Linked DNA regions of Homo sapiens: region 1 is linked to region 2. The links come from fine-mapping of genetic effects on gene expression. A gene starts in region 2. The other region holds a variant in brackets. All regions are shown on one strand. Distances are between the middles of the regions.

Region 1 (5,374 bases), 130 kb before region 2:
ATACATAATATTCAATCTACTCAAATAGGTTCAATGGAACCTATTTCAAGGTTCCATTGATTCTACCTTGAAAAAAAAATCTTTTTTTTTTGAGACATAGTCTCACTCTATGGCCCAGCCTGGAGTACAGTGGCATGATTGCGGCTCACTGCAGTCTTGACCTTCTGGGCTCAAGCAGTCCTCCCACCTCAGCCTCCTGAGTAGCTGGGACTACAAGCGCACACCAACACATCCAGCTACCTTTTTATGTATTTTGTAGAGATGGGGTTTCGCCATGTTGCTCAGACTGGTCTAGAACTCCTGGGCTCAAAAGTTCCACCTGCCTAGGCCTCCCTAAGTGCTAGGATTATAGGCATGAGCCACTGCACCCAGCCTTGAAAATACATCTTGAATCTGCTGACTTATTTCCAACTTCACTGCCACCAGCCTAGACCAGGCCAACACTGCTTGGACTTTCCAATATCTCCCGAGCTTGTGTCCTTTATTGTCTTCTGCCCCCTGCTCAAGGCTAATCACACAGGGGCCAGAGCAGACTCCTCCACATGCGCCTGCATGATACCAGCCTCTCCCGGCTCTCTGGGCTCACCATGGACTCTCTTCCCGTTGAGTCCTTCACGGCTCTGCTCCCACCGGGAACGTGCCAGCCTCCTTTCTGTCTTAAGGCCTTCATTCATGTTATTCACGATCCTGAAATGTTCCTTCTCCTTTTCCACAGAATTGGTCCCTCATCCTTCAGGTCTCAGCCTAAATGACACTTTGTCAGAAGGGCCTTTCCTGATCTCCCAAGCTGGATTAGGTTCATCTTTCCATAAACTCATGTACTCTGTGATTTTTCTTCATACTACTTATCACAGCTGCTGTTCCAGAGTTTTGTTTGTTTTGTGAGACAGGGTCTCACTCTGTTGCCCAGGCTGCAGTACAGTGGCACAATCATTGTTCACTGAAGCCTTGAACTCCTGGGCTCAAGCAATCCCTCTGCCTCAGTCTCCTGAGTTGCTGGGACTACAGGCACGTGCCACCACACCAGGCTAATTTTAGGGTTATTTATGCAGTTATCTGTTTAATTTCTGTCTGATTCACTGTATTTTAAATTCAATGAGGAAACATATCTTTAAAAATGTATCCCCAGAAAACAGTGCTTGGCATACAGTAAGCATTCAATAAACGTTTGTTGAGTGGATAATGAATCAAGAAATATTTTCAATACTAGAAGAAAATAGCATCAGAAAAAAGTTGTTCTCTCATGCTTTTTCTTCTTAAAATATGCTGCCTAACACAGTAACAACACTATTACATTTTAGGTGATATTTTCATGTCACCTTTATTTAACTGTCATTTAAGATTATTCCGTTATAGCTGTGTCTTTTTTTTTTTGTTTTTGAGACCAAGTCTTACTCTGTTGCCCAGGCTGGAGTGCAATGGCGTGATCCTGACTCACTGTAACCTCCACCTCCCAGGTTCAAGCGATTCTCCTGCCTCAGCCTCCCAAGTAGCTGGGATTACAGGCACACACCACCACGCCCAGCTAATTTTGTATATTTAGTAGAAATGGGGTTTCACCATGTTAGCAAGGTTGATCTCGAACTCCTGACCTCTGGTGATCCGCCTGCCTCGGCCTCCCAAAGTGCTGGGATTACAGGTGTGAGCCACCTTGCCCGGCAGCTGGGTTTATTTTTCTTCAAATATGTTCCCATTCATCTCAGTATATACTTGAAAATGCATCTTAACATGGTCACCAGTGAGTTAATCAACAGATAACCTCCCTTTAATTTTTCTAGGTCACTTTAAAAATTTTCTTTACTGGCCTATGGAATTAACAGAAATATAAATTTGCTCAGCACCCTTTATTTTTTTTCTCCCACAGTTATTTGTTAAGTTAAGCACGTAAGCAGTTGATTCCTGGACTATTCTGAATAAGAAATTTACCAAAAAAAATTTGGTAAATGTCCAATTAAGCTACTATGATTAATTAAGTGCTATAACTTCTTTATGTTTGCCATTCAGTATCTTGATATCATGACATGCCCAAATCCCACAGCGTTTCCATAACATTGGAAGCACCTTCCCAAAACAGAGTTCTAACATCACCAGCAGTGTAACAGGGAGAGAGAGACCAAAAGCAGAACCATAGGATCAGAAAAATAAGATTAGACACATTCAGGAGAAGGCTATACTAACACTTGAGCAAACATTTCATTTGGGGTCACTTTTTACAGAGACAGTAAAATGTTCTAATTACAAGATCAAAAGAAGAGAGTAGCATAAGTTGTTCTACTGAAAGAACCACAAGAAGGGACAAAAGCTGATTTTTGAATAGAGTTTTCTTTTAATCAATCACTTTTCTGAGAATGAAGCAATAAAGGATTCTATGTAACATTTTTTAAAGTCATGTATTGTGATTCATCAGATTTAACTAGTACAAAATTAGTATTTGAGAGTTAACATAACAGCAAAAGGGGAGAAAAACCCAGAAATCTCTTGCTAGTGCCCTTCATTGTTAACATTATACCCACGGCATGAACGTGGAAATAAAAGTCTTGGTTGGATTAAAGTAATTTATGTATTTTAAATTTATAGAATGACACTGTCATCAAAAGAATAAAATTTGATGTCTAATCCAGTAGGACAGGATAACTAAGATTTTATCTTTTTTTCACTTGTACGTGGAACAAATGCCATGTTACATTATTTTTCTTTCCCCAATGAAAGTGTGTACGTCTCAGTAGTGGACATCACATTTAGGGTAAAAGCAATTACAATGGAGCAAATGGAGCAGATTGAAAGCTCTGAAACAGTGTAAGGAAAGATGTTCTTTCAGAATCTGAGACAACATCTACAGTTTTAATAACGAATCTTTAGCTTGGCAAGAGGTTAATAGGTTAGCAGCAACTGGAGAAAAGAAAAATATGTAAGTGATTTAGTGATTACCGATACGGTTCAGTTTTTGTCTTTCTCAGTCTCTTCTCTTGAGGGGTCAGAGGCACCCGTTTCCAGAGCATACTCCAATCCCATGCTCCTCGGGCATACCCATCTTCATCACCACCCCCTTGGGGTATAATTTCATATGTGTTGCCATTTATGACATC[T/A]ATAAGCGGCACAGTGCAAATGGTTCTGTATTGTGTTGATGGCAGCAAAGATCAAATGGAAGCGTATGTATGGACCCACACATTTATACGAGTTCATGGGGAAGAAAAAAAAAAGAACTTAGATAAACATTCAACATAAGAAAATAAAGTAATAGTCTTTACCGATAAGGTTCAGTTTTATGTTTTCTTTTGGCCTTTTCCTTGTGGCTTAGAGGAATACGTTTCCATAGTAAACTCCAGTCCCAGGCCCCTCTGGCAAAACCATCTTCATCCCCACCTTGCTGTGGTTCAATGGAATAATCATTCCCATCTATGTAATCTATTAGAGGCACAGTACATGTAGTTCTGAAACATTTACAGAAAATGAAAAAGCATTTAAGAACCCAAGACTAGTTCAGCATGCCTAACTACGTTATCTCTTTTTGTTGTTGATTTGTTTGTGCACTAGGGGACTTTAATATCTAATGGGAAATAGAGTAAATGAATGTCCCATAAAAGCCGAAAAGCCTGTTTACGTAAGGGCAGGAGAGAGGAGACTTCCCCCTAGGCTTACAGACAAATGTCAGGGACAAAGAACTATATCACTGAGCTTAATAGAGTTTTCTCCTTTTCGCTTTGGTCCTAAAGGCAACTTTCTTTTGGTAATTTTACCTTATTTATAAGATTTTCTTGCCTGTTATTTTCCCTATCACCCATGAAAAAGCTCACGTGTGCGTGTGCATGCGTGTGCGTGTGTGTGGGGTCACAGATAGTACTTGCCACATTCTTAGCGGTTCTCTCAACCCTTTGTTGCTATTTCTTGGGAACAGTTATGAAAATGTGTTTCTGTACTTTTACTTGATCTTCCTCACTCCTCTAACTGCAGAAAACAGCTTTTATTGCAAAACAAACAAAAAAAAAAGGTATTGTTGCTTTAAAAAAAAAAAGCAAAAAAAATCCCTCAAAACTTGCTGAAGAACTTCAGAAGTGGTCTGAGAATTTGGATCAAAAAATCTCTTATATTTGGGCTTCACGAAAATGCTAGTACTCTATAACCAATTAGATGTCAAAGTGACATTACAAAGATTATCTGGTACCCTGCTTGTTACAATGTTCATCTCGTCAGAAAGGATTTTAAAATCTATTTTCCTAAAATGAAAATGACAGCTTTTTATATCCAGGTCAAGCTGCTTTTCAGAAGTTTAAAAACCAAGGAAAAGGGAAAACCTACAGTGCTTAGAACTTTAATATGGAGGAAGTAAAGTCCAGAAAGATGCTTCCTTCTCTCCAGAGTGTGAACTGGAGGGTCATTGTCAGATTTGTGGAATCTGCCACTGGAATCTGGAAAACCACTTCCTCACTGCCCAGAAGCCTGCTGGTATTCACCTAGAGAAAGTTACCTGACACTTGGTCAGTTAACTGTCCTCACTTATGATTTTCACATTCCTAAATACATGGTGCAGTGTAAACTTTCCCAGGGAGGCCTTGGTCTGACAGTTTATTAGCTCTCTGATTTGGGGAAAATTACTTAATTTCTCTAAGCCTCAGTATCCTCTTCAGTCAAATGGGGCTAATAATCTCTATCTTGCAGGGTTGCTGTGAGGATTAAATCAGACAGCATGTGAAAAATGTTCATGTTCGGCCTTCACATTAAATCCTCTCATGATTAAATCCTCCAAAGTTCTGCCTTTGATTCATGCCATTTGCCATTTGCCACATGGACGTGTTTTATTTTCCTAATTATGGACTAGAAGCAAGGAAGGCTTTTGGAGATAGAAAACTGATGGTGCCTTATGTTGTTTTAGACATTTCTGGAAATTTAATGGTGATTGTCACAATTCCATGGAATAGTTGTCTATTTCTAAACTTTAAAGTTTCTATAGGAACCCAAAACCTTGACACAAGTAACACCTGGTCTTTACTATTGAAAGTACTAATTTAAAAGGCACAAAAATCAACAGGTATAATATCAAAGCATGGTTCCTCAAGTGTTTAGAACTCTCACCCCAGTTTAGAGGGAGCAATTCATATAACTCTTAGAGAAAGTGCCTGGAGATAGAGGGGTCTTAATAACCCAACCACAAAATGATTCTTGAGTGAGGAACCCTAGGTTTCTCCCAAATGCCAGACTGCCTACATTTAAATCAGTCCACAGTATCAGTCTAGCTCCACCCAAGGAAACAAATAGATGAGGGATAACACTAAAGCACACTCGATGCACTGAATGGAGCTGGAATCAAAGGATGAAAATATTATTTGCCCTTCTAGGACAAGGTTTACTTTCAACCAGGAAAGAAAAAAAGCAAGGT
Region 2 (5,374 bases):
TTTCACTCATGCTACCTCCTGCCTCAGGACCTTTGCCCAAATGCTCCTTCTCAAGAATGCTGCCACCCACTTCCAGATTAACTACTTTTCTTGAAATGTTCAGATTTCGCCTCAAAAGTCAGAGTAGGCAGCTAGGCAGACATGAGCAGGGCAGGAAAGGCCCCCCACCACCAGGAATGTCAGGCGGCCATCAGGTGATGGTCAGGCCGTTGTTAAACTGTCTCTCTGAAATAATAATTGGTCGCGCCAACACCATGGAAAGGCAGTCTCCCATTAGATAGAAAACACCTAAAGCTGGTTATCAGCAGGTTCCCACTAAGATCTCAGGAGTTGGGCAAGTGGGCTCCAGCATGTGCACTAATAGGCAAAATGGCAGCTTTTAACTAGTATATGCCCTTCCTCTAGGAAGGCTCAAATTGTAAGGGAAAAATGCCTCAAGTGAGCATGAGTAAAACTTCAGTAAACACACTGCAGGCAGCCCCTCCCCGCTGCTGGCAGGCCACTGCGCATGCAGACAGCCCACCCCAAGGGAAGAATCACGGGAGAAGAAACGCAAACCCTGGAATCATGCCAATGTATAAAACCCCAAGTCCAGGGTCAGACGAGGTACTTGGATTTCTCAAGTAGCCCACATGGCCTTCTTCAAAGTGTACTTCCTTCCGTTCCTGCTCTAAAGCTTTTTAATACTCTCACTCCTGCTCAAAAATTTGCCTCGGTCTCTCACTCTGCCTTATGCCCCTCCAATAAATTCTTTCCCACAGGAGGTAAGAATCGAGTTGCTTCAGACCTGTGTGGATTTGCTACTGCTAATAGTCATTTCTTCAAGTAAGGCTTTTATGACCAAATTCCTCCATTTTCTTGCCCCCTATGGTTTTCACTATGAAAGCAGTAGCACAATTTTTATTTATATATTTATCGAGGTTTGATTGCTGTGTGGTTTTTACAAGATCCATGAGATTAAGGACAAGGAGTATTTCCTTAACAACTAGTACCATGCCTGGTATATAATTGGCACTCAAAAATGTTCAAATAAATCAATATTTAAAATCACACAACAGAATATGATCGGAAATGTAAGGTCATTTTTCACATCATTCACTTCAGAGAAAGGGCAAGAGGCCCAGAGATGGGAAGGAAATAAGAAACATGTTTCTTTTGTCTTGACTCCACAGGTGGACAGACCTAAAACAAGGAAATAGTGCAGATGAGAAAGGACCATCCCAAGTTGTCAAGGCTGTAACAGAATTTAGTGTATGACATATTCATAGTTCAAGACAAAAAGTGGCACAGGGTGAATGGAGCCACAGGTACAAGCTTGCTGGAGTAGAGGCAGAACCCATACCTGGTAAACTGGATCGTTCAGGCTATTTAAAGGGATCCAAAAAAGTCCATGTGTAGATCAGCATTAAAGAGAAGCAGAGATCTCACCATGGGTGGAATATATGCAATAGTCATCGAAGTAAAAGAACCACAAGGGGGAGGAGAAACTCAGGAGTCAGAATCCTCCCTACAGGATTTGTCCTTCTAGCACTGTACCTTAAAAGCTCCTAGGTTAGTCTTTATTAAAGGAAGGCAATAATCCCTTATTTATGCTCTTATTATTTATAAGCTACACTTTAAATTGCTTGTATTACTATTTACCTGGGAAGCCAATAAAAGGGTCTTTCTTGCTCTTCTGATACCTAAGCATTCCTCTTAATGTTAATTATGTTAAGTCTTTAAAATCTACCTTTTGTTTTTGACAAATGACAGAAATTACACTGGATCCACTGAGAAACTTTATCAAGTACACTGAAACAAACAAAAAATCAAGATATCATCACCTTCTTTATCATCACCATATAGTACTGAAATGGGCATTATGGCCCATCCTTTGTTTGCACTAATAAAATATTCCACGAGTTGGCAAGTGATGCTGATGTTCCGCCACCTCTTTAAAAGATCATCAGAAGGGCGGGACATTCTGAACCTAGCTAGTTTTGTCAGTTTTTCGTCAGTTTCTCTACCAGAAAATAGGGGGTTAAACATTTCTAGCTACATGTAAAAAGCCATTTGATGACTTAAAACAAATATCCTCAATTGCAATATTCAGTTATCCTTTGTCAATAAGTCATATTGAGAGCAAAATTATAAAAAGATCACCATCACTCCATGAGCTGAGAAGCTTAAAACCGCAAATGTACTGAAAAGGAAAACTGATACTTTTTATTACCATCAATTTAGATGACTTAGATGGGAATCTATCCCAGATATTACAAAGGGATTCCACTGCTGTAGAGACTTCAAATACTAAAACTTCCAGATTACATCTAATCTCATGATATAGGCGAAGAGCTGATAATGGGATCTCCTCCTAGGATTCTTACTCTTGAAAGGACGCCACAAGCCTTTTTGCCCAACTTCTTGATGCTAACTTTCCAGAAGGAAAGTTAAATAAACATGACATAGAAGCGATGCTCATCACACTTGCAAAAAGCACTTTACAACAGAGAGAGCGACTCGACTCCTCCTGCAGCCCCGCCGCCTCGGCGGTCGTGAGCCCCTCATACCCTCTCCTACCCCCACTGGCAGCCGGCCCAGTTGGCTGTCCCAGCGGGGAGGAGGAAGCAGGTGGTGCAACGGTTCATCCGGGGGGAAGCAGGTCAGGGTCGGGGGCGAGGCCGGTGCGCGCCGCCCGCTGCCGGGTCAGGGAAGCCGCAGTGCCCGCGGTCCCTTCCCCGCGCGGCGCGGCTCCGGGTAACTAATGTTCCGAGGCGCCTGACTAAACCCTCCAAATCCAAGGAATGTCAGCGCTAACACTCGCGCCCTGGGCGGCAGACAAATGCGTCCCAGCGGAGCCGCCGCGAGCTCCGCGCCGCCGCTCCCCTCGGCGTCGGCCTGAGCTAGCCGGCAGCCGGCGCGGGGCGGCCGGGCGCCGACACAAGTTAGTTTTCCGGCCCAAGCAGCCCTGCCGCAGCCAAGGAAGAGGAACTGCTCCTCTTCCCCCGGATAGCGCCCGAGCACTGCCACAGCAGGGGCTTCCCCAGGCGCTGAGGGCTGGGGGCGGCGGGCAGGCGGGGCGGGGACGCCCCTCCGCCATCTCCGGCCAACCGCCCCTCCCTCGCCCAGGGACGCGAGGGGGACCGGCGGTCCGGGCGAGGCCTCGGCCGCGCATCGCACCCCGGCTCCCCGCCGCCGGAGTTGAGGGGGAGGCGCGCTCTCCGTAAGAGCCGGAGGCGGGGCGCCATCGCCCTCCCACTCCCCGGCGGGCGGGCCGGGGGAGCCCGGGGCTGCGAACACCCCCAGACGGGCGGCTGCGGGAGGGGAGGCTGGACCAAGGGGCCTGGTCCACCGGACCAGCGGTGGCGGCATCGGCATCTCGCCTCCTTCAGGCCTGCACGCGCCACAGGCCGCAGCCTGGACCAACCCCGCGTCCCCGGGCCGTGAGCGCTGCGGTCCCGGCCCCCCAGAGCGGGACGCCGGGCGGCCGCAGCCCCCCGGACCCGGCTCTCCGCCCGCTCCGCCCGCAGTCCCGGCGCGGAGAGCGGCCGCCCGAGCCGCTGCCGCGGCAGCGCGGGTGTCGGCGACGGAGCCCGGGGCGGGGAAGAGCGGAGGAAGGGGCGGCGAGGGGGCGGGCCGGCGGCGGCCAGGGAGGTCGGAGTGCGCGGGGCTCGGCACCCCCTCGGCCCGCGCTGCGCCAGCACCACCTGCGGAGCTGCGGTGCCCACGCCGTGCCGCGACCCCGCCGCCCCTGCTCCCTCCACACGCGGGCAAACAAAACAAGTTGCCGGTCGCTGCCGCCGGAGGGGGCCGGGCGGGTCACTCACCCTCATCCTGCTCAGCGGGCTTGGGTCGTCCGGCCGCGGGGTCAGGGAAGACCAGAGGACCACTAGCCCCAGGAAGCTTCCCACCACCAGCAAACTGCGTAAGATGAACCCAATCTTCAGCCTCATCTTCCTCCGGCGGCGAGAGACTCACAGCCCGGCGCAGCCGCCGCCACCGCTCTCCCCTCCCTCCTTCCCCCTCCTCCGGCTCTCCTCCCCCTCTTTCCCCCACCCCTACCGCTACGGCTGCCGCCCTCTCCGCTGCCTGCCCTTTCCAGCTCCAGATCCGGAACTCCCCTCGGCTACACCTTTCCCCGGGCTCTTCCCTCCGCTCCTCCCCGTGGCCCCCTCCCCTCTGGCGGCCACCGCAGAGCTCCGACTGACCCGTGTGCCTCGCTCTGCCAGGCTGCCTTCCTCTCTACCTGCCCCCTTCCAGATCCGCAGTCCCCTGCTCTCCACGCGAGCCCCCTTCACAGTCCCTGCTACCTTGTAACTAACTTGCACTTTTCCCGAGTCCGGTTCTTAGCCTTTGCCCTGCAGCTCAGCTCCTTAAAGCTTTCAGATCCCCAAACTTTTATTGTAATTATGGACAATAACTCCGTCCTTAACGCCTGTGCCCTCCGGGATCCCGTGGCCCGCCGCCCCCTCCGTTGGACCTGGAGTCGCTCTCGTCTGCACCTCTCCCTTAGACCCACTTCCCTGAGCCCCTTGTCGAGAGGCTTTCAGGAAGCCAACCAGGAAGTGGGACTACCGCTGCTGCTGCAGCAGCTCCACGTGGCTGATTTATAGCTGAAGGGTTTTTTTTTTTCCTTCTTATTGATTGTTCTTGCTTTTTCACACGGCTCCTTAAGGTGGTGAATTTGTAACCGAAAGGCCCAGGTGAGATGTGCAAATATCACTGGATTGGAGGAGCTCACTTGGAAAGCCAGTATTCCTCCTGAGCTAATGAAAAGAAAGGCTGTCGTCTTATGCCAAAAGCAATACCAACCTTGTTCACGGGCTGGTAAGTTTCAAATCCAAGGACCACGGATTTCAACTCCACCCTCATTGCGTCCCTCAGATCTGATATTTGCCACTTGATTTCTGCTTTTCAAACGCCTTTTCTGCCTGTGTTACCTAAATTACACAGTAAAGGATATTGGCAAGTGTTTAGCCAAATGCCCCACCCTGAGGAAATAATTTTTCTGCCCATATCTCCCAATAAAGATGTCTATGCCTTTATAGCAGAATGTATGTAATTACATTATCAGTGTACTATATCCTAAACTGCTAATTTAAATTTAAGTCGAACAAAACGTTTTAAGATTTTATCCTAAGTTTTTTGGGGTTTTTTTTCTTTTCTTTTTTTTTTTTTTTTTTTTTTTTTTTTTTTTTTTTTTTTGAGACGGAGTCTCTCACTCTGTCACCCAGGCTGGAGTAGAGTGCAGTGGTGCGATCTTGGCTCACCTCAACCTCCACCTCTCGGGTTCAAGCAATTCTCCTGCCTCAGCCTCCCCCGTAGCTGGGACTACAAGTGCACACCGCCACGCCCAGCTAATTTTTTTTTTTTTTGTATTTTAGTAGAGACGAGG

What was found. PIP is the estimated chance that this variant, and not a neighbour inherited with it, causes the effect.
Region 1: its variant is the best candidate, but not a certain one, in a credible set for the expression of GALNT7-DT in iPS cells (PhLiPS, PIP 0.84).

What each region holds. Positions count from the first base shown.
Region 1 is chr4:173,295,852-173,301,225 of GRCh38, reverse strand. GALNT7 (polypeptide N-acetylgalactosaminyltransferase 7) reads right to left here. Exons shown (of 12, transcript NM_017423.3): 6 at 2,929-3,111. Among named protein-coding and RNA genes, the nearest start is that of MIR548T, 30 kb to the right of the region's middle. The variant T/A (reference allele first, on the strand shown) is at 3,087.
Region 2 is chr4:173,167,394-173,172,767 of GRCh38, reverse strand. GALNT7-DT (GALNT7 divergent transcript) reads left to right here and starts at 3,116. Exons shown (of 7, transcript NR_134242.1): 1 at 3,116-3,904; 2 at 4,655-4,806. GALNT7 (polypeptide N-acetylgalactosaminyltransferase 7) reads right to left here and starts at 3,957. Exons shown (of 12, transcript NM_017423.3): 1 at 3,807-3,957. The coding sequence starts at 3,932. RefSeq lists silencers at 2,579-3,808, 4,039-4,158, 4,229-4,278 and an enhancer at 4,589-4,688.